Linked DNA regions of Homo sapiens: regions 2, 3, 4 and 5 are each reported to be linked to region 1. Evidence: microRNA targets listed by miRTarBase, many of them from high-throughput screens and not tested one by one. Region 1 holds a microRNA gene; each other region holds the end of a gene's coding sequence.
The links. Region 1 holds the annotated microRNA hsa-miR-499b-5p (ACAGACUUGCUGUGAUGUUCA, at 3,124-3,144, opposite strand). A microRNA usually pairs through its seed, bases 2 to 8, with sites in the 3' UTR of a target mRNA and lowers its output. Matches are read on the target gene's strand: a 7mer-m8 pairs with bases 2 to 8, a 7mer-A1 pairs with bases 2 to 7 and ends in A, and an 8mer does both.

Region 2: the mRNA of ZNF449 is a reported target of hsa-miR-499b-5p. Seed matches in the 3' UTR shown: 7mer-m8 at 1,724-1,730 and 7mer-A1 at 1,670-1,676.
Region 3: the mRNA of POP4 is a reported target of hsa-miR-499b-5p. Seed matches in the 3' UTR shown: 7mer-A1 at 1,358-1,364.
Region 4: the mRNA of TRIM33 is a reported target of hsa-miR-499b-5p. Seed matches in the 3' UTR shown: 7mer-m8 at 3,696-3,702.
Region 5: miRTarBase lists KCTD6 as a target of hsa-miR-499b-5p. Seed matches in the 3' UTR shown: 8mer at 3,930-3,937.

What each region holds. Positions count from the first base shown.
Region 1 is chr20:34,987,320-34,991,823 of GRCh38, forward strand. MIR499B (microRNA 499b) reads right to left here and starts at 3,153; the gene lies at 3,081-3,153. It overlaps MYH7B (myosin heavy chain 7B), which reads left to right. Exons shown (of 45, transcript NM_020884.7): 17 at 238-356; 18 at 446-595; 19 at 773-943; 20 at 2,421-2,600; 21 at 2,695-2,827; 22 at 2,915-2,991; 23 at 3,419-3,506; 24 at 3,685-3,802. MIR499A (microRNA 499a) reads left to right here and starts at 3,057; the gene lies at 3,057-3,178.
Region 2 is chrX:135,360,165-135,364,668 of GRCh38, reverse strand. ZNF449 (zinc finger protein 449) reads right to left here. Exons shown (of 5, transcript NM_152695.6): 5 at 1,256-4,476. The coding sequence ends at 3,593. Among named protein-coding and RNA genes, the nearest start is that of ZNF449, 18 kb to the right of the region's middle.
Region 3 is chr19:29,614,874-29,619,377 of GRCh38, forward strand. It overlaps POP4 (POP4 ribonuclease P/MRP subunit), which reads left to right. Exons shown (of 7, transcript NM_006627.3): 7 at 371-2,364. The coding sequence ends at 507. Among named protein-coding and RNA genes, the nearest start is that of POP4, 11 kb to the left of the region's middle.
Region 4 is chr1:114,393,746-114,398,249 of GRCh38, forward strand. It overlaps TRIM33 (tripartite motif containing 33), which reads right to left. Exons shown (of 20, transcript NM_015906.4): 19 at 4,195-4,245; 20 at 1-4,115. The coding sequence ends at 3,903. Among named protein-coding and RNA genes, the nearest start is that of TRIM33, 120 kb to the right of the region's middle.
Region 5 is chr3:58,501,302-58,505,805 of GRCh38, reverse strand. It overlaps KCTD6 (potassium channel tetramerization domain containing 6), which reads right to left. Exons shown (of 3, transcript NM_001128214.2): 3 at 3,450-4,504. The coding sequence ends at 4,174. It overlaps ACOX2 (acyl-CoA oxidase 2), which reads left to right. Exons shown (of 15, transcript NM_003500.4): 15 at 520-670. The coding sequence ends at 582. Among named protein-coding and RNA genes, the nearest start is that of KCTD6, 11 kb to the right of the region's middle.

The DNA.
Region 1 (4,504 bases):
CCAGACCTCAGCATCCTGTCCATGATGGTTAACCCCAACTCTTGTCCACAACCTTTAACCTCAGTCTTACCTGGCCCTGCCTCCTCAGCTCCAAACCCTTACCCTCCTGAGGCTTTGTTTGCTAGCCCTGAACTTGACCCCTCTTAACTTCCCTCTCCTAGCCCCAGGCTGAGGCAGTAGAGCCCCTGAGTGCGCATGGTGGTGTCCTCCTCCCTTACCCCACTCGTGCCCTGCCAGGTGCTGACAAGGCTGCCTACCTGATGGGGGTCAGCAGTGGGGACCTCCTCAAAGGCCTTTTGCACCCCCGGGTGCGTGTAGGGAACGAGTACGTGACCAAGGGCCAGAGTGTGGAGCAGGTGAGCTGCCTGCAGGCCAAACCCATGGGGGACAGCCGGGCAGGGTCCCCTCCTTGCCAGGTCCCAGCCCAGCCTCCCTGCACCTCCAGGTGGTGTTTGCTGTGGGGGCTCTGGCCAAGGCCACCTATGACCGGCTGTTCAGGTGGCTGGTGTCTCGGATCAACCAGACCCTGGACACAAAGCTGCCCCGGCAGTTCTTCATCGGGGTTCTGGACATCGCTGGGTTTGAGATCTTTGAGGTGAGGACAGGCCCTCACCTTGGCCTCTGTTCTCTCCAAGGTAGAGGACATGGGCCTGTGGGGGGGCAGAAGCCCTGGCCTTCTGCCTGGAAGTTGGGGGTGAACTCATGCCCCTCCCCGGGCCTCCCTTTCCCCATCTGCGAGAGGTCTGCTGAGCCAGGCCCCTCCCTCTTGTAGTTCAACAGCTTCGAACAGCTGTGCATCAACTTCACCAATGAGAAATTGCAGCAGTTCTTCAACCAGCACATGTTTGTGCTGGAGCAGGAGGAGTACAAGCGGGAGGGCATCGACTGGGTCTTCATCGACTTCGGCCTTGACCTGCAGCCTTGCATCGACCTCATCGAGAAGGTGGGTGCCGCGGCAAGGTCACTTTGAGGAAGGGAGGGTGTGTGTGGTGAGCAAGCAGGGATGGATGACCATGGCTTGCATGGAAGCCTGCAAGTGTGCATGGAAGCGTGTGACTGTGCGTTGCAGTAAGCATGCATGTGAGTGTAGTTGTGACAGCGTTTATGTGCTTGTGTGTGAAAGGGCACGTGTGTGAGTGGGTGTGTTGGAGTTGACCATGAGTGAGCCTTGGTGAGTGTGTGAGCAGTGTGAATGCATGCATCCCAGTACTGTGGACAACAGCTCCTCCTGGGTGCTCAGAATTCTGCAGCTCACAAGGCCCTATTTGCAGCCACAATTTCACTGGATCCCTAGAACTGCCCTGGGTGCAGGGCAGGGTGTGTTTCCTTGTTTTTGTGATTGTGGAACATTATGTATATTTACCCATTGTACAAAGAATGGAAGAAAGAAAATTTGAAAAATTGGCAGGGGAAAAAATGTTTCTCCCCATTCCTATCACAGCCAGTCACATGACACTTAGGTTCATTTCCTCGAAATCCTTTATCCCTTTTTTTTTTTTTTTTTTTTTGAGATGGAGTCTCACTCTGTCGCCCAGGCTGGAGTACAATGGCACCATCTCAGCTCACTGCAACCTTCGCCTCCAGGGTTCAAGCAATTCTTATGCCTCAACCTCCCAAGTAGCTGGGATTACAGGCATGCGCCACCACACCTAGCTAATTTTTGTATTTTTAATAGAGACATGGCTTCACCATTTTGGCCAGGCTGGTCTCGAACTCCTGACCTCAAGTGATCTACCCACCTTGGCCTCCTAAAGTGCTGGGATTACAGGCGTGGGCCACTGCGCCTGGCCTATCCATTTTCTTTTATAGACACAGATTTCATTTCATATCCTACTTTTTCTCTGAAAATGTATTTTGAATGCTGCTCATGGCAAGAGTAGTTCATGCAGTGGATGAGTTTCATACGATGCATTTCTGCAGTCCCCTACAGCTGGGCGTTTAGGTGATTGACAGCTTTTTAAATATTATGTCAGCACTGAAGACATTCATCTTCCCACTCTGCAGGTTAGAAGACTGAGGCTTAGTGATGTCGGAGGGCCCCACAGCTAGTGAGTGAGGAAGCCAAAATGTGAACTTGATGGCTTTTTTTGACTTACCCCATGTTTGTGTGTGACAGCCATGGCTGTGGCGGGGGTGAGAGTGGGTACAGAGATGCCAGCTTGGGTTTGCCATTGTTAGAAGTGAAGATGACACCTCAGTGCTGCAGATTTTGCAGGAGGGGACTGGAGCCAAGCCACAAACTTTTCTCTGTTAGGAGATGGGTTCTTGGAGTGGGTGTGGTGTCTGACCATCCGGGGAGATGGCTGAAGCTGGGGATCTGGGAAGGCTCCCAGAAGGGAGGTGGCCTGGGGAACCAGGGGTTCAGTCCTTCCAGGATGGACTGGCTTGATGGTGGCTTTTCAAGCTCGTTCTGTTCCCAGCCACTGGGCATCCTGTCCATCCTGGAGGAGGAATGCATGTTCCCCAAGGCCTCAGACGCCAGCTTCCGGGCCAAGCTCTACGACAACCACGCGGGGAAGTCACCCAATTTCCAGCAGCCTCGGCCTGACAAGAAGCGCAAGTACCAGGCCCACTTCGAGGTGGTCCACTACGCAGGCGTGGTAGGTGCTTGCTGGAACCCCAGCCCTCGGCCAGGCTCCTCCCGCCCTGCTCCAGGTCTCCCACCCGGGCTCAGCACCTGACTTGTCTCTCCAGGTGCCTTACAGCATTGTGGGCTGGCTGGAGAAAAACAAGGATCCCCTGAATGAGACCGTGGTCCCCATCTTCCAGAAGTCACAGAATAGGCTCCTGGCGACTCTCTATGAGAATTATGCGGGCTCCTGCTCCAGTGAGTATGGAGGGACAAGATCTCCACTCTGACAGGGGCCCACAGAGCGACATTCCCTGGAGTGACCAGGCCCCTTGTCTCTATTAGCTGAGCCCCCCAAGTCTGGGGTGAAAGAGAAGCGTAAGAAGGCAGCATCGTTCCAGACGGTGTCCCAGCTGCACAAGGTAAGGCCCCATCTGGGAGACAGACCCTCCCTCTTGGCAGCCTCCAGCCCCGTCCTTCACCCCCTGCCCTGTCCCCTGTGCCTTGGGCGGGCGGCTGTTAAGACTTGCAGTGATGTTTAACTCCTCTCCACGTGAACATCACAGCAAGTCTGTGCTGCTTCCCGTCCCTACGCTGCCTGGGCAGGGTTTGTGGGGAAGGGGTGGGAGCCCTGGGGCTCTGGGAGGGACGGGGATTTGGCAGGGAAGTGAAGACTTTGGTGGTGGTGATGGGAGACAGCGAAGGGTCTCCCATCACCAGAATGAGAGTGAAAGAGCAAAAGTGCAGGGCACTTAGGGCCCTGCTCCCGTCTCGGTCCTGACCACTGCGGCATCCAATTCTGGTTCTCTGCCCCCTTTGTGCCTTTCCCTCACTCTTCCCCACTGCCAGGAGAACCTCAACAAGCTGATGACCAACCTGCGGGCCACACAGCCCCACTTCGTCCGCTGCATTGTCCCCAACGAGAACAAAACCCCAGGTAGTCACCCAGGGCTGGCCTGGCTGGGGCCGGGAGGCATCATGGGAAGGTGACAGGGCAGAGGCCGGGAGGCTGAGTACATCTTCCCCCTCACCTCGCAGGGTCTCCACTGCTGCTTTTTCTCTGGGGCCTGCGGGTGTGCCTGTTGACCTCTGACCTTTTCCCCTCTCACGTCCAGGGGTCATGGATGCCTTCTTGGTGCTACACCAGCTGCGCTGCAATGGGGTCCTGGAGGGGATCCGGATCTGCCGCCAAGGGTTCCCCAACAGGTTGCTCTACACCGACTTCCGGCAGCGGTGGGTGACCCCTTCCCCCTGCCTGCTGCTCCAGGTGGAGGCCTGAGGGGCTGGGCAGGACACACATATCAGAGCCCAACAGACGGTCCCCTGTCTGGAGGGGGAAGCAGGGACTGTGAGGGGCCTGGCCAGGTATCCCAGCAAGACATGGGGGTGGCTCAGACCTGGCCGGGGACTTGGGGAGAAGTGAATAGGCTTGGGGCAAATAGTGGAGGTGGAGCCTACAGGCCTCGCTGATAAGCTGGACATGGAATTCTGGATGCAGAAAAGACGAATGATTTCTAGTTTTGGGAGTGAGCAACCTGGGAGCTACCAGTGGTAGATTTACTGAGCTACAAAAACAGGGTTTTTTGATTTGGAGGAGAGGTGAAGGGATACTGGTTTGAGCTCTGTTTTGCGTGTATCAGGTTTGAAATGCCTCCAGCAGACATCCTAGAAAAGTCATGGGGGAGATTGGGATTATCAATCTGGAGCTCAGGGCAGCGGGCAGAAAGGATGCAGATTTGGGAGTTGAACGAGAATCATGTGGACGAGGCTTCATGAGACACCTGGCACATAGCAAGCACCTGGGCAGTGCTGCCAGCTCCTCCCCGTTCCCTCAATGGGCAACAAGCATCCATCGTTCCTTCTCCCTCCAGAAGTCATGGTGTCATCCACACTATCCTTTGTAAACAGAGGTTCACACAGATACCATACACGCAC
Region 2 (4,504 bases), not on the chromosome of region 1:
TAAAAATGAGAGAGGGTTATAGGAATAAAGATGACTCAGTTTTCTGGAGGTGCTCAAGACTGTTTCTCTTGGGGATTCTATGGTGAGTGCAGGTGCAAGAGGACAAAGTGTAATGACTCTCTTCCCCCACCTCATGGGGAGGCTTGGGGGCTGGTTCCCCTGTTTATTCCCTATTTCTCTGGATTTTAGCCTACACAACATCCTCAGTACACTATGAAACAATCCCTGAGAATTCAGGAGGGCCACAGTCGCAAAAACCTCAAAGTGCCCTGTGCAGGTTCTCTCTGCTTTCAGAAAGACAAATAACTATGGGATCCTGAAGGAGAGCGTTCTCAGCCTGGTTTGAAGAGTCCCGGTCTCCCCTAGGTCCTTTAGCTTCCTGTTTTAACTGCCTGCCTCAATGCCCAGGCAGCTACTAACAATTGCTGTATAACATCCACAGAACAGACCAAAGGTGGTGGAAAAAACTTACCAAGGGAAGGGGGAGTACAAAGGTTCAGGGAGGCAGAATGGGGAGCAATTCGATCTTGATGTCACCAACCCTTCACAAACACCAAGAATACGCCTAAAGACATTAAAGTAATTGAGCGGTCCAAGGCTCTATTCTAAATTTGCACCCTATAGAGCCCTTATTTTCTAAGGTTTTAGGATACTTAACAAATTTTATAAAATGTAGGTCTTTAAAAAAGCCTAAATGAGCTTTCAAAGCAGAAATAGAATGAAACTTGTTCTCTAATCACAATGTAGCAAAACCAAAAATTAAGAGGAAAATGGCAACATTGTATATCTCTTAAGTCAAAGAGGAATTATAATGAAAACAACAACCATTTTGAAATCATCAATAAGAACATTACATATAAAAGCTATGAAGTATGTCCAAAGCCATAAAGAGAAGAAATCTATAGCTTTAAATGCTTTTATCATTAAACTACAAAAATGAGAATATAATACGGGGATATTTATTGAAAGCTTACAGTGTGTAGGGCCAGAGCAAAATATATTTCATTTAATCTTCATAGTACTTTTGAGGTAGGTACTGTAATTTCCCCTTTATAATAGCTAGGAGGTAGGTACTGTATTTTGCCCTTATCTTTTTGAAATGCTCAGAAGTACAATTAGACATAGAAGTATAATTATCCATGCAATGTTCTAAATATGTTATCTGTTTCCAAGAACTATTTCATGTGTTTCTTGATTCAATACCAGAAATATTTATTCTTATATATAGGGCACTGTAACAAAGAATATTAGACATTCTCTAACTTGTAAAAATCTAGTCAAGTATATTTGATATAAATGAGAGGGAGGATGCAACTCATATTATGATTGCAACTAACCCTACTAGCCAAAAATGGACTGTATTAAATGCTAAAAATGATGCATAATCACAGTGCCATGGTTGCAGAGAGAAAAGCGATTCCAACTTGGGATGAGGACAGAGTCAATTGCCATGCTTGTTGCCACTGTTCAGGGAAGAAGCTCTAAGTTGTTCAAATAATTAATTAGTGCAAGTGAAGCAGGAAGAGCACATACATTTCCGCTTTATTCAAATATTGCATAAATACAGAGCAGTTGGGCACATCCATTCTAAGGCACTGTTCTGGTTTGAATGCAATTCCACAAGAGAGAAAAGAGAAGCCATTACATTCTGTATTTTTCATCTCTACATTCAGACTCCTCCTATATTATATGTTTATTGCTACTGGGATATCAATTTGAGCCCCAGACTTATAGCAGCATCATATGTTGACCTGGATGACAAGAATTAAAGATACATCCTGGGTCTAGCAATTGGTATAATTGGCACTTAATTACAAACTCTCTTGCATTATTCTCCACCTGTTTCCCAACTCTTGTTTAACTAAAAATATTATAAAATCTTTATGAGCCTGATCCATGAATTATATTTCTTTACTAGCTTCCACTAAGCCTAGAACAGGACTAGTTAGGCACATAGTAGATACCCCCCAAAGTATTTATATCACTCTCGAGAACTTCAATGGAATAAAGACATATACTTTTCCTAATTGTAGTTCAAGGAAAGGATGACTGAACATCTTCATAAAGGGAAAATGCCTGAATGTCTTATTTCTTGTATTTTATAACAAGGAACTAGGCTCAATGAATATTTTCATGTTTTAACAGGTTTAACTGACAATGAGAAGTCTTCCCTTGCTTTGGGAATTTGAGCTGTTACCATGATTACATGAGAACATTTATATAAGTAGCAGTGTGTGTGTGTATGTAATTATAAGTAAAATTCAAAGAGGTTGAGAATCACTGGGAAACTTATACATTATCTGAATTAGTGATCCTCAGCTTCTTAAAATGATATGTGTATATACATATGTGTGTGCGTGTGTGTGTAAATGTAAGTAAAATTCAAAGAGATTGAGAATCACTAGGAAACTTAAAAATTATCTGAATTAATGATCCTCACCCCCTTAAAGTAGTATGTGTGTGTGTCTCTGTGTGTGTTACACAAATTCATATATATTTTAAGAATTTTTCATAACACCCTTAAAACAACTGGAGATAACTAGGCTTGGGAGCAACATAACTATACTGACAGCTATAGAAATATCTGTTTAAGGCAGTGTGTTCCAAGAGACATTTGCAGAATATTAGTTCTGTAGCTTATTATTGGGTATATGAAAAAGGTTTTGGGGTCAAATAAGTTTGGAAAACATTGAGCCAAAAGAGGTGCTTTTTCTCTCCTTTCTAGAGGACCTCTCAGAGATTCTCATATGCTGATGTGTACTATGAACCTAAGAAGGCGAAACAGCAGGAAGTAATTCCCAAATATATTTGCAGAATATCTAGCAGAACTAAGTATTCTATGACACATACATAGGGAGATGCTGAATTAAAGAATGGGTAAAATTTTAAAAAGCACTAAAAGACACATGATTGAATACCAAAGGAGAGTGAAATACCAAAGGAGAGCAAAAGACCCTGGTTCTTCAGTCAATCAAAATTAAATTAGATTCTGCTTGTATAATTTCAAGCTTAAAATCTTAATTTCCTTAAACATAACAAATTTCAGTGGAAATAACCCAGTTCTTACCAGGCAAATGACATCCCCTTCATCCTTGTGTTCCTGACACATTTTTATTGTTTGACAAAATTCACTGTCTCCTTTCTTGCCACATGGGACACATCTAAAGCTTTGAATGAATATAATCATCTTTAATAATGACAGCAGAATAACTATAGTACTGCTATAATCAATACGTCTGATAGACAGGTTTATCCACTATATTGACCCTACCTCTAAAAGGATTGTCATAATTTATATGCTTTATGTTTACACCTATGATACAGTTGCCTTGGAACACAAAATTTTTCATTGTAATTAAAAAAAGAAGAGTTGTGCAGACAGAAGAAATCAAATCTAAGAAAATCACAGGAGTAGATAAATACTCTAGAATTCATATACCTTGGAAGATGGGTTTTAAAACTAGTAAAAAAAAAAGCTGTCTATGTTCTTATAAGCTCAAACAAAAGCTTCCAAGACAAACAGCCTGCTGCAGGTTAAGATTTTTTTTGAGTTAGTGTCAATTTGTGTAAGACCTGTTTCCCTTAGCAATTCTTAAATAAGTCCTCTAAAGTGAGTGACCTGGTGCATAATAAGGCCGGCTCTCTGTCTGAAGCTTTTAGAACAATGAGTACACTTGTATGGCTTCTCCCCTGTGTGGATTCTTAAATGAATAACGAGGCTTGGTCTCTGTCTAAAACTTTTCCCACAATAATTACATTTAAAAGGTCTCTCTTCAGTATGCGTTCTCTGGTGCAAAGTAAGAGCTGTCAGTCGACTAAAACTTTTCCCACAATTATGACATCTATGAGGTTTTTCACCTGTATGAGTTTTCAGATGTCTTTTAAGACTTGATCCATGACAAAAACTTTTCCCACACTCAAGACATTTATATGTTTCTTCTTCAGAATGGGTTCTCTGGTGCCCTATAAGATGTGACCGCCGAGTGAATCGCTTTTTACATACAGTGCATTCATAGGGTCTCTCCCCTGTATGAAGTCGTTGGTGTCTATAAAGGTCTGAACTACGAAGGAATCTTTTCCCACATTCAGGGCATTTGTGAGGTTCTTCTCCTGAATGAATTCTCTGATGCCCAGTAAGTTGTGACTTCCGAGCAAAACATTTTCCACACTGAGGACATCGGTGAGGTTTCTCTCCTGGACTCTTTTTCTTGTGGGGTTTAGGGTTGAGAGGTTCTTCCAAGTTGGAGTTCTCAGGTGTCTCTCCCAGAGTGGGGTTCTGCTGATCTACCAGTTTTGCTAAATCTGTCTGTAAATCCTCTGGGGGGGTTTCCCATTGATTTTCTAACTGTACATAGTCTTTTTGCAAAATGGGACCCTGGAGAGCATTCCCCTCTAAAGTTACAATAAATGGATACATAGTCTCCATTTTTTTCTGTTTTGAAGTATCTTCTTCATTTTCTATCCCGATCTCAAAACCTGAGAGAAGAAATAGAAACTGCAGATG
Region 3 (4,504 bases), not on the chromosome of region 1:
ACATTGTAAACCTCGGAAAGTGGTGTAATAGTTTCTCCACAGAGCATAAGGCCAGGAGCCCATCTGAAAGTTAATGTGGGAAAACCAGTTTCTGGCAGGTGTTCTGGGACTTTCTGGTTCTGGGAATTTGGTGTATAGCCTTTGACCCTGAAGATTAGGTGCCAAGCTACATTTAGCATGTGACTAGATTGACCTGTGGCAGAATAACCACAGGCAACCCTAATGCCCCTCCCCTTGTGGGTTTCCCGTTTCCTATTAGCTTATTTTTTTCATTCAATGTGTTCTGAATAATATTCTACCTAAAAGTAAAATATTAATAAATATTTTTCCTCATCTTTTTTTCTCCTGCCTTTTTTTTTTTTTTTTTCAGTTATCCCCAAGCTAAACTGCGTGTTCACTGTGGAAACCGATGGCTTTATTTCCTACATTTACGGGAGCAAATTCCAGCTTCGGTCAAGTGAACGGTCTGCGAAGAAGTTCAAAGCGAAGGGAACGATTGACCTGTGAATTCTTTGCCGTCTAAGGCAGTTGTTTATGACAGCTGAAAACTGGACACTCCCTAAATGTCCACCTTTCAGTGAAGAGATAGTTAAGCCAATTCCATTTATAGACCACCTCCAGCCAGTGACGCTCCGAGTTGAGGATGTTGAACAACATGGGAAGGTCGCAGCGTACTAAGTGAAGAAGTCAGAGGACAGAGGAATTTCTCTTTCTAGGAGATTTTCATTTTGTGTGACTCCCATGGGGAGGAACAGACTGGCAGGAAGCACACCGGGGTTAACACTGGTTGACTTGAATAGGATTATTCGATTTTTAAAAATACTTTTCCATGTTTTCTGAGTGCTCTATGATAAATCAGTTGCATCTGTGATAATACAGTACATATGTGGACATAAACAGGGATCAAATAAAGGAGGTATTGCTGCAGTCCAGCCAGGTTGAAAGGGAAGGGGGGTCCCCAAAGGTCCATTGGATGGCAGGTGTCTACAGAGGCTCGCCTTTGGGTGGAACTCTGACCCACCTAAGGTTTACTTTGCTATTTCAGGAAGGTTGAAGAGGATTGAAGGGTGAGTTGCTAAGTGACTTAGGGTTTATTCACTTCAGGAATCATAGCTGGGGTGGACCCCAGGAGCAGAGTACTGCATGCAGCTGTGCCCATGCATGGTTGCCCCAGCGTAGTGAGATGGGACCTGCCGCAGCATGCCCACTCCTGAGCTGCCAGGCTGAGCCATGGAGGACTGAAAGGAGGTCGCCCGGCATCACCTCCCGAGGTGAGACCTGCTGCAAAAGCCAAGCCAGCAGCATTGACGCCCTTTGATATCTTCGCCATTTTTGCTGCTGAAAGACTTGGCTTTTCAGTCTGACCCTGGCCCTCTGTGACCATGTGTCTGTAAAGCCAGTGGGTCAGGCCCTTCCATGCAGGGCCAGAGGAAAAGCGGGCCCAGGGCTGCAGTGAGAGCGGGGCAGGGGACCAGCCTACCAGATGGGTTGGAAACATGGCTCAGAAGGACCAACTACCCCTTCCCTTTGAGGAGCAAGTCTCTGCCGATCAGCAAGGCAAGGCCAGGAGCCCTCCTGGCGAAAGGCAGGCCACAAATCTGTTCTCCCCCAGGAGAAGTAGCAGTGCCAGGGCTTTGCGTTTCTGGTAACTTCCACCCAAACCACACCAGAGAGAAACACCGTAGTGGAGAAGGGAAGTGGGAGCGCTGACTGCTGTGTGCCAGGAGAGTAGAAAGGCCCAGGTCTGTGCCACCACCCCTCCCCAAAGCTCAGTGCACCCAGAGTCTCACAGGGACCAACACGGTGCCTCGGTCCTGCTTCCATCCATGCAAGTGTCCTCCGCTCACCAGGGTGTTCTGAGGCAGCTCAAGTGCTCTCCCCCAAGCAGCACGCAGTCACCGCTGCCAGTGATGAACACACGCACGGGCTAGGCACATGGAGCCCAAGCACACTGCCACCTCGGACACGGGCCCCGGCCCAGCGACTGCCTTGTGGTGTGGCCGTCCTCATCTGCCACAGGAAGACAGACTTCGAGGGACCTCTTGCCTAAGGCCTCGCTGACTCAAGGGTAGATTGAGATTTGGACCTAATAGGCTCCAGAACTGTGCTTTGAGCTACAGGGTGGCTGCAGGATGAGACGGATGCAGTTCAAAGTGCAGGATGTGCTGCCTTTATTACCTGCTTTCCCGCTGAGCAAATCCCTGTCTTGAGTGGGAAGTGGCATCTATTCCCCCAGCCATCTGAAAATGCTGTGTTCATAACCAAATAGGTGCTGTAGCTTCCTAGCCATCCCGCTCTTACCCGCCCCTCTGCAATGTAAAAGGCGTCCACTGTTGTGTAAATACACAGTTGCTTTCCAGAAAAGTTGTAGGTACCACTTGCCATGTGAAATCTGTTTTTCATTTAGCTCAGACTCAAGTTTCTGTGTGAGTGGCGGTTTAATTTGTAGATACCTCTCCCTCTCCCCCAAGGAGACATGGTGAGGGTGCTCACCGGCCACTAAGCTGCCGCTGTGCCTGCCTGTTTCTAGGATACACTGTTGCCCTCATGGCCCACCCAGGGGTCATATCTCCCAGGTAGAGGAGGGAAAGGGGAGGGCCCAGCTGGGCGGGACATGGTTCCTGATGAGGAACAGCTGCAGAAAGCATGATCTGAGGCCCAGGGGCCGTGGCAGGGGCCAGGGCTGCCATGTCTCCACAGGCTGCGGCACAGCTTGTCATGGAGGGTAATGTGGTGCTTTTTGGCCCGATCTCTCCCATGTCCACTGTCCAAGGAGCAGGACCCTGGCAGAGCTGAGGCCTTGGCCATGTGGTCCCACGGGAGACAGAGCCACATTCGACTTGTGTAAGCCTCCATGCACCAGAGAAAGTGCCAAAGAGGAGAGAGTGGTTAGCAACTCAGGACAGGACCCAGAGGCTGCAGGACTGGGAGACATCAGCCCAGCGACCCACTGCTCAAAGAGTGGGGCCCAGGGGCCCTTTACATCTTCCCAGTGCCCAGCTGCCACACAGGGTCTGCAGAGGATAGGCCAGAGCCTCGGGGGAAAGGATGAGGTTCTTGGAGGAGAAAGGACAGCGAAAGGACAGCGTGGGCCATGGCTGATGTATCCATCTGCTCTAATCTTCATAACAAAATGCCACACACTGGGGCTGCAGCATTTTCTCACAGCTCTTGAGGCTGGAAGCCAAAGATCAAGGTGCTGGCAGGGCTGGTTTCTGGAGAGGCCTCTCCCTTCTTGTCCTCACATGGCCTTTCCTCCCTGTGTGCAAGGAAAGTGATCCCTCGGGTCTTTTCCTTGTAGAAGGACGCCAGTCCTATTGGATCAGGCCGTGTTCTTATGAACTCGTGAAAGTCTCCAGACAGTCACAGTGGGGGCAAGGGCTTTATCATATGAATTTGGAGACCCAAGTCAGTCCACAGCCACCCCGAAGCTTTCCCAGCCAGGACAGCCTGGTTGTGCCTCCCAGAAAGACTCCAACAGCTACCTGACTCCCAACCTCAGACACTAGCCAGGCCTTCTCTTTCCCCCATATGGGCTGCTTGGACCACTAGCCAGTCCAGCCAGCCCCAATGCTGGCCCCTGAGCTGCCATCACCACTGGATTCTGTGACATGCTCATACAGGAACTTGGGTCCAGGGCTGCTCCCTCCAGTACCCGGGGCCCCTGAGCTGCCCAGTTCCCCTTCACTTTTGCAAACAGCTGAACTCCTCCTCCCGCTGGGGCCAGGCACAGTCTGGATGGGGGAGGAAATGCGTGTGCAGGTGGGCAGGATGGGCAGAGAAGTCTCCCTGGAGCAGGGGCTCCGGCTCTAGGCAGCTGTGGGTGTGAAGAGTGTATTCACACCAAGGCTCAGGGCAGGAGCCCGCAGAAGCATTGTGGAGGACCCAGGAAGGCAGGGGAAGCCTGCGAGGGTCTGCCCCCTGGGCTCAGGCAGGCAGGAGGAGAGGCCGGAAGGGGTATATGGCTGCCAGGAGTGGAGAGATGGCAGAGATGCTGGAAAAGCCCTAATCCATGGGGCAGGAGGTGGAGTTCTGCTGATCCATTCACGCAGTTCTGAAGTCTTGGGGACCTTGGTGCCGCCATCTGTCAAGTGGGGCCATTAGACTAGACCCAGCGTTCCTGGAATGGCATCCTGGAACTTCCCATATCAGAGTTAGTGGGTGCACATTCAGAGCAGCCAGACCCTGGGCTGCACCTCAGACCTACTGAATCAGCCTCTGGCGGCGGGACCCAGATAGCTGTGTGTTTACCTAAGACCCCAGCTGATCACTGATGTTTGAGGACGCTGGGCTCCAGATGGTGTCTAAAGTCTCTTCCAGCTCTGAGGTCTGGACTGTGATTTCAGACTTGGGACTCTCAGGCCAACGTTTTCTGGAGGCTGGGAAAGATCATCAAATGACTGATCTCCCAGGTTCCAAAGAGTAAACAGGAACATCCCTCCACAAAGCCGTAAATTCTGGTAAAAAAGCTCGCTTTCTGGACAATGGCTTTAGCTTTAATTTA
Region 4 (4,504 bases), not on the chromosome of region 1:
AGTACCTTCAATTTTTTTACTCAAACACTTACTTTTAAAAAAATATGCAACTTTCCCCAATTTTTAAAATAAAATGCCACAATATAGTGTCATTACTTCCAGCATACATTTAAATTTCTTAATTTTTAAAAGATAGACTGGGTGATATGCATACAAACTTTCCTATAAAATCACCATCCAGGAGAGGATTCTGACATGCTATTAGGCAACAGACTCAAAGCAGTGTTATTGCTTTATCAAGGAGGAGATTAACTGTGAGGGAAAAAAAATTAAATATCCAGGTCCGGTACATGATCAAACTGTATTACACCTTGAAAATCTTGAGTCACCTTCAGCAGATCATTAACATAGATGGTACAGAAATTAAGAATTCATGGTATGAATTAAGAATCTGTTTTAACTAAGGGAGTTGGGTGCGTGGATTTTTTATAAAACTACTCACTGATCCGATGCTGAGTATGCAAATAAGCAGTGCTGATTTTGACAAGAAATGAGATTTTTATATTTCACATGTTGTACATGAATGGGGGTGGATATGGGACGTAAAAGCCAAGGGAGACGGGGCCACAGCATCTACTCCCATTTTGGATAGTAAGAGACCATTTAATAACATACAGTAGGCCACAATCCAAGGGCATAGTTGGAAGACCTGAATCTATTATCTTATTAACACTAATCACTAATAATTACATGGCAGGATACCTGCTGAGGTAATTGATAAATCTACAATTTGCACACTTATAAACCTTTTACTTCTATTTAAAAGCATTATTTATTTCAATTAACTAAAAATTCCAAAACTTATCACAAAAAATGAGACAACTGACTTAGCATTACCTAAAATTCCCTTATGTTAAGATACAGAAGTCAGAAAGTACCAACTTGTTGATCCAAAAATAATAATTTCAATAGTGGATCCAATGCCTTATCATTTCTCTGTAGTAATGGTTTGATGTTTCCATATAGAGCACGACCTACAATCTAACCATACTTTAGAACTTTCACATGCTTTGCCTCATAAAGCAATTCCTTCACTCAGTGAATTGGCTGAGCCAAGTGCTGAAAACACAAATTTAGGTCAGCGGAACAGACTGAGCAACACTTTGTTCTTAGTTTTCTGATGGAAGAAGTAAATTGAAGTACAGCAAAAACTTTAAAAGCTTTTAAGAAAACATTATTATGTGGACTTTTCTCCAAATCTTCTAAAATACTGCCATTTAAAAAACAAATACAAATGTGAGAGAGTATAAAAACAAACTGCCTTCAGGGACTGACAGATACAATTTTGTCTTTTTAAAACATAAACTAATAGGAAAACATATATCTAAATATCAATTTAAGTTTTTATACTTTTTAACCATAGGTATATTAGAGCTGAAAAAATCAGCTTAGAAACACAACGATCAGTGTGCAAGAAAAAAGCTTTAATAAAAAATCTAAAGTGAATACCTTAATTTAATGGTGGTATGTTGATAGCTATTAATAGTAATTCCTCAGCAGTATACATTATCTTAACAGAAGTGGAGGCTATTAAATGTTGACAAAAAAGTGGCTTTTAAATTGCTTTAACCAATCTTAAAACCAAAAAAACCTAAAAACTCTATCTAACATGTAATTTTAAGGAAACACAATTATTTTTTAAGGCCCCAAATACTGAAAAATATTTACTTAAAATGTTTCTCCCCTCAGTTGGCAGAATCTATTTATGACTCATTATCTACAATTTTTTTAAAAGGATCCATTTGAAGAGCAATACAAAATATTAGAACTCAAAGGCCTGACAAAATGAAGTTATACTGCTGCTATTCCTCACTTTCCAAAAATGTGCCCTTAGATATATGTCTACTTACAAACTGAAATCATGGATTTTGTGAAAAAAGAGGGAAATTGGCATAGGCATAAGTATTTTTAAATAATTTTCTCCCTCTTATTAAAAAACATTTTTAGGAATTTAAAATTTGAGTAAAATGTTTCAACAGTTTGGTATATTTTCAACGGCTTAAATTATTTTTTAAAAATTGAAAGAAAAGTGAAAAGGAAGCCAGGAATAAAGTAAATCAATAGTAATAATAAAATCAATACTCTTTAAATACACAACCAGAAAGCCTGAATCATATTCCTGTTTACCCCCACCCCTTGTTAAGAAAAGAAAAACAACCCAAAGGAATTTGTATAATAATTTCTTTAGAGCACTTTATTTGATTCAATATGCATTAAAAAATATTGACCTCTTAGACAATTACGTGAAATAATTTTCTGAGTAGTCTACTCTCTGAACTGCTTAAATGAATTTTTAAAAAGGCAAATAAATGATTTGCCACAAATCTGCTGACTTCTGAAAAATATCTAACAGCAAATTCTTCTATTTTGGTCTCTGAATATTCTAATGTGTCCATACAAAAGTAGGACTAAAATCTTTAATCAAACAAAAGAGAAGCCTGTAACAGTGTAGAACACACATTTTGAATCTGAGCATCACAAATGAAGAAAAGAAAAATGAACCAGAGCCAAGTTGGTTTATCGGCCTCGGGTGCTGTAATTGGGGTGGTAAAGGTGGGTTTACTCCAGTAACCATTCAAGTGGGGATTGGCTCATTTTCAGGATTTACTTACAGGTCTCTTCTAAGTCCTTTAAGCCCCCAGTCCATGCAAATGTCCCACTTGGTGGACAGATGAGTAATCTAACCCCACCGGGTTTATTTCAATATTTCGATATTTCAATAATAAGCTGCTTCTGAAGATTTTTTGAGAAGTCTGTTCTCTATTAAAATAAGATAGAACCTCAAAATATGAATGTGAACATTAGAAATAGACAGCATATATTACAAATCCATTCTTGATAGGAACATTAGTAAGAATACACATTAGCTTAAAAAACAGGCTCAGCAAATGTTGCTGATCTGCCAAAAGTTTTAGTTCACTATTTACAAATAAGACAAAGTGAAATACAGAAAATTTTACACATTTGGTAGTTGACAGATACTGTTTGCCAATAGTGGTCTATCAGAAAACTGACATGAAGGAAGACTGGAAAAGAGCCAGTTGTCACCTTCTCAAATTTAAATGTACAGAAAACTAGATTAATTTTGAAACAAACATTCTGCCTTTCATGGGAATAACTGTATGATCACATGATTTGATTGGGAAGTACAATTGTGAGGAAGTGTTTTCTGGAAACAACTACTATAACTCTAAATAATCCACTAATGAAAAGTTACCATTTTTGTTTCAGTAGACCATTGAAGTTGATTAAATGATAACTAGTGGTAGTGTTTCCTAAACCCTAAGTATGAGTAGAAAATAAAACCATTGCTGAGTTCTTTATATCAATTTAAAAACTAAGACCCAACAGCATAAAAATGAGAAAAAACATAATGGCATGATTCAATGCAAATCTGCACTGACATTAAAGTAGAATCTGAGCTACTTGGGTTTTTAACTAGAAAACAACCTGATATGTATGTGTGTGAAGGGGGAGGGTTAAAAGTTGTTTTAATAACTGTGCGACCTAGTCCAAAAAGAAAATTTATCAAGTGACACGAGTCTCAAGTATTTACTCGTATACCAAGTATCCTGCACCAATCAATAGCACACAATCATCAATATTTGCCATTTCTAACAATCAGAGAATCATCTCCATTAGAACAGAAATCCTCAAATCATTTCACTTTTGCTTTTTGCTTTGAAACTTGCAAACAGACTTCTCTCCCCCTTTCTTGACAAGAATGTGTTTCTGTCCATTATTTCAATCTAATACTGTGTAAAAGCTATCAGCTTCTTCAAGGAGGTGCCCACTGTAGGCAGGATATTCCAGCAACACTTAAAAGTTTTCTGGGTTTTTTGTGTTTTTTTTTTTTTTTTCGTTTTTTTTTTTTTAAACAATTGATTTAAATCCATGTCATTTTACTTTATATGTACTGGTCTCTCATCTGACTTTAGGCGTTTTCTGCGGGGCTGTATAAAGTCTTCATCAGAGTCCTCAGTTACCTCACCATCATCCTCTTCCTGCTCAAACTCTGGCAAAGGTGCGAAGGTCCTGTCTGAGTAGATCTCTGTGAGTTTATCTTCAAAGTACAATGCAACTGCTTTCCCTGCCTGAGCTACTTCTGAATCAGCCTGCAAGCAAAAGATAGGAATATTCACCTATTGGTAATGCATATTCCTTCACCAAGTTTGCATGGTCTGAAAAGCTTACCTTCAAATTAATCTCTTGTGTGTCTGCATAAACTTGAACAACTTTCATCATCTAAAAAGGATACCAGAGTCAAAAAAAAAAAAGGGAAATTATAATCCTTTCTAAAGTTATGAGACTGCATAGGATTGGCGACGAAAAGTCAGCCATACTAGGGAGAACAAATTGCTATAACCAGATAAAGTGCTTTTCTAAAATTCTACAGAACATGGAACCATTTTCTTTACAAAGCCCTGTTACTAAAGCTACTGTGAAACCTCAGTAATTGTCTTATTTTGAATTATCAAGGTCAATCTGAATAGGAATTGGTCTG
Region 5 (4,504 bases), not on the chromosome of region 1:
AAAAACAGTCAAAAGCCCAGTGTTCGAGGAGCTTACAGTTTTAGTGTAGACAGGCACACACACACACACAAAGTAAATATTATAAAAGATGAGACTAGAACTAAGAAACAAAGAATCAAGACACTGAATTACAGCATAATGAGGATAACCTAGTCGGACCTAGAATACTGCTTATATGATCCCTATCTGGTTCCTTGCTTTGTGATTAATGTTCAGTTTCAGAGAGCCTCAAAGAGTCAAGCCTTTTATTTGTATGAAATTCCAAAAGCAAGTGATAAGCTGTGTTTTTAATTGGCCACCTGCATCCACAATTTAAAATCTGCATGAGAAAAGGAAGGATGCCCTTTGGAAAAAATGTTTCTCCATATGTTCACACAAAATGAGTCTTAGAAATAATTTTTAAAATTAAGAATCTTACGTAATGTTACTTTTTGAAGCTAGAGACTTAATTTGAAAGTGAAAGTCATTAATCCTGGCAGAAATGTACTGTGTTAATAATGCGTTTCTTTCTACAAACAGGAGAACCCTGCCTATGAGGAATATATAAGACCACTTTTACAAAGTTGGAGATCCAAGCTATGAAATAACCAACAGTATTCAAGAAGCAACCAGCACCATCATGTGATAATGGTACTATGGCATATATGCAACATTAAAATTTTAAATTAGATATTTATGTTTTAGAGTCATTATCTTTTAGATACAGTCTGAAGTGATATATGTGAAATAATATCTGTGATTTACTTCAAAATAATCCATAGGAGAAAAAAGCCAAAGTGAACAGTTGTTGAAGCTGGTCAATGGGCAGGTACATGAGTGTTCATTACACTATCCTCTCTACTTCTGAATGTGTTTGCAATTTCCAGTGGGGCGTGGTGGATCATGCCTGTAATCCCAACACATTAGGAGGTCAAGATGAGAGGATCACTTGAGCCTAGAAGTTCGAGACCAGCCTGAGCAACATAGAGAGATGCCATCTCTACAAAAATAACTATCTCACGCCTGTAATACCAGCACTTTGGGAGGCCGAGGCAGGTGGATCACGAGGTCAGGAGATCGAGACCATCCTCGCTAACACGGTGAAACCCCGTCTCTACTAAAAATACAAAAAAAGTAGCCAGGCGTAGTGGTGGGCGCCTGTAGTCCCAGCTACTTGGGAGGCTGAAGAAGGAGAATGGTGTGAACCCGGGAGGCGGAGGATGCAGTGAGCCGAGATCGCGCCACTGCACTCCAACCTGGGTGACAGAGCGAGAGTCCGCCTCAAAAAAAAAAAAAAAAAAAAAACTGGCCAGGCATGGGGGTACATGCCTGTGGTCCCAGCTATAGGGAGGCTGATTGCCTGAGCCCAGGAGGTTGAGGCTGCAGTGAGCCGTGATCACATCACTGCATTCCAGCCTGAGCAACAGAGTAAGAACCTATCTCGAAAAAGAAAAAGAAAGAAATTTCCCACAGTAAAAAAACCGTACCACTGTCCATTTATAGCATCTATTTGGTTAAATACAAGGATTTTGCTGTAGATCTAGCAAAAGCCAATAGGCTCATTAGTTAGTGTGTTTTTCGCACACATTTATCCTTGGGTTTAAAAGGACACACATACATGCACACACACAATCCTCCTAAGTGCGTATACTTGCTGTAATCTAAATAAAATACAGCTCTAAGAATGCAACTATCATTTTTTAAAAATCAACTCTTCCACAGTGATGATTTAAAATTTCATTAAAAGACATAACTGTCTCAAGTTACCCAAATAAAATGAAGCTACATTTTTCATATCATTTTCAATTGCCCAATTAGACAAAACACTCTAAATGTCACTAGACAAGTAAAATGGCAAAAAAAAAAAAAAAAAAAAAAAAAATTCAGCTGGCTACTTTTCCTAATTTACTCATATAAACAATCATTTCATTGTTAATAATCAGTAAATTTGAGAAAATTTACCAAAAGCAAACTTATCTCCAGTAAACAGGACAAGGAAGAGGCCTCATAAGTTTTTAACTTTTAAAAACTTGGGATGGGCGCAGTGGCTCATACCTGTAAACCCAGCACTTCGGGAGGCCAGGGCAGGTGGATCACCTGAGGTCAGGAGTTCAAAACCAGCATGGTCAACATGGTGAAACCCTATCTGTACTAAAAATACAAAAATTAGCCGGGCATGGTGGCGCACACCTGTAATCCCAGCTACTCAGGAGGCTGAAGCAGGAGAATCACCTGAACCTGGGAGGCACGGGTTGCAGTGAGCCAAGATCGCGCCACTACACTCCAGCCTGGGTGACAAGAGTGAGACTCTGTCTCAAAAATAAATAAATAAAAATCATTTAAAAATAAAATAAAAATAAAAACTGGAAACTAGTATTATTCCTATTTCCCCACTTGTTTTCAACCCAAATCATTTTATTTCATATTGACCTCAGCTAGCTCAACAACACGTAACTGGTTGGGCCTTTTTTTTTTTTAAGGTAACTATCAAATCAATTTTAAATACAAGATAATTTTCCAAAATGATAACCTTGTACTCGTATATTGATTTACTGAAACCACAGCAACCTGTCAATAACATCAAAGGATCTTAGTTTGAAGATGGTGAAAATAGGGTAATTACAGGTTTCTGGATGTGGGTCATTTGTCACATTTTAAAATAAATTTTCAGAGACGTGGGCAAAAATAGACATAAGGAAGTGTTGTCATCTTCCTTGCAGAGAGAGAACCTCAGAATATTCTCACAGAGAGAAGGAGAAAAGGAGTGGCCTGCTTGCCCCAGGGCACACAGCCTCAGAGCTCCACTCTTCCCTTAGAAAATAGGGAATAAATTACATGACTTCCTTTTATACTGTGGTCTAACAAAGTAGGAAGTCTCAGTACAATTAAAATAATCCTTCCTATGAGTTACTTTCAAGAAATAGAAGCACATGAACTATGCAAAATAAGACTACAGTGAAATAAATAAAAGTACGTGTATTTCTCCAAGTACGTGCATTTCTCCAACCGTTCTAGGTCATTCATTCACTGCAGTTTGTTTCTTCTCTTCAGAAATAAACTTAACTTTGTTAACAAAATACATTTGTCGATTACCACAAAACATGAGCATAAAGGGCTAAAGTCATTTTGTTCCTGTGCTTAGCACAAAACTGAAATAATGGTCATAGAACTGTGGGCAATTAAAGTAAAATCTGTAACCTTCAACATAAATTCTTTTGAAAAAATATGAAAAACTGTATGTTCACTGTTCAAATATGCACCCTTTTAGTCAAAATTAATAATTCCATCCATCCTTGTTTCAGTGACGCAACAGTTCTTATAAACTGCAACCTAAGATCCCACTGTGTCCTCTCAAATCAAATACAAATGTGCTATGGGCAGTAAACACTGGGACATAAACAATGCATATTTTAGACAAGAAATATGATTTTCTCCCCTTAAGTAATAATAATCAATAAATACAAACTTAATTTTCATATTTCATTTTTTATTAGTTTTGTTTTTTTTTTCTGGTAGACAGTACACTTGGGAATTATACTGCACCAGGCATAAAGAGTAAGTTTTCTACCACAGGGACATTTTGTATTCAGAATTCAATATAAATATTTCTAGTCAGACATTTCCATGGCTACAGATATTTGGTTCCTTGATTTATATGCATAGAAAGAAACAGTTGTCATAACTGTAAAAAGCAGTACTTAATAAGTACTTTTAAATGATTGGAACAGTTTTCCTTTAATATTACAATACTACTTATTTATTGGTTTGGAAACTAGGTCACCCTACATGATGTTTTGATTTTTCTCAAAGGCATCATGAGTACTCTGCTTATTCTTTCATTCTTGTATTTTTAGCCTTCTAGTTGAGTTAGGGACCATTTTATCAGAAATCATTTTAGCACTGTAATAAGAAAAGCTCTGTTAAGGGTAGATTATATACCATAATGATTTTCAGACTTCTTTTTATAAAAAAGGTATCTGGAGACTCTGAACAGGCACATGCATACTCAGGGGGAAGGGAACAAAACATGGAGGAGTCTGCCAAAGCACAAAACTTCCTTCTGGTCCTCACTGCCTTCAAATAAATACAACTATTTAAAAGAAAAAAAATATCTCACACTGTGATTTAAAAAAAAAAATCAGTATCTTCCATTTCCTGGAGAGTCTTTCCAGGAACCTGTGGCAGGGTCGGAGATCAGTCGTCTGTCTTCCGGGCTAGCCTACAGAAAGTCCAGTTGTGCTCCACTGTGTTTTCATTGGCCCGCTCACTCATGTGATGCACCCGGGTGTTGCGGATCGTGAAACCTTGTTTTGTAATGTATTCCATCAGGTGGACCCTAAGAGAAACTTCCTGGTGATAATCACAGGGTCCAAAAGTAAAGGAAACCTGGCAGTCTCTGGTGTCCATCATGTGCTTATTCCACTTGGTAAAATAATTTGAGATGCCTTCTAGTAAGGAATGGACCTTAGTGGTGATGGTTAGTTGCGTTATGATGACAGCCACTGGGTTGGAGTACTTAGAAAGC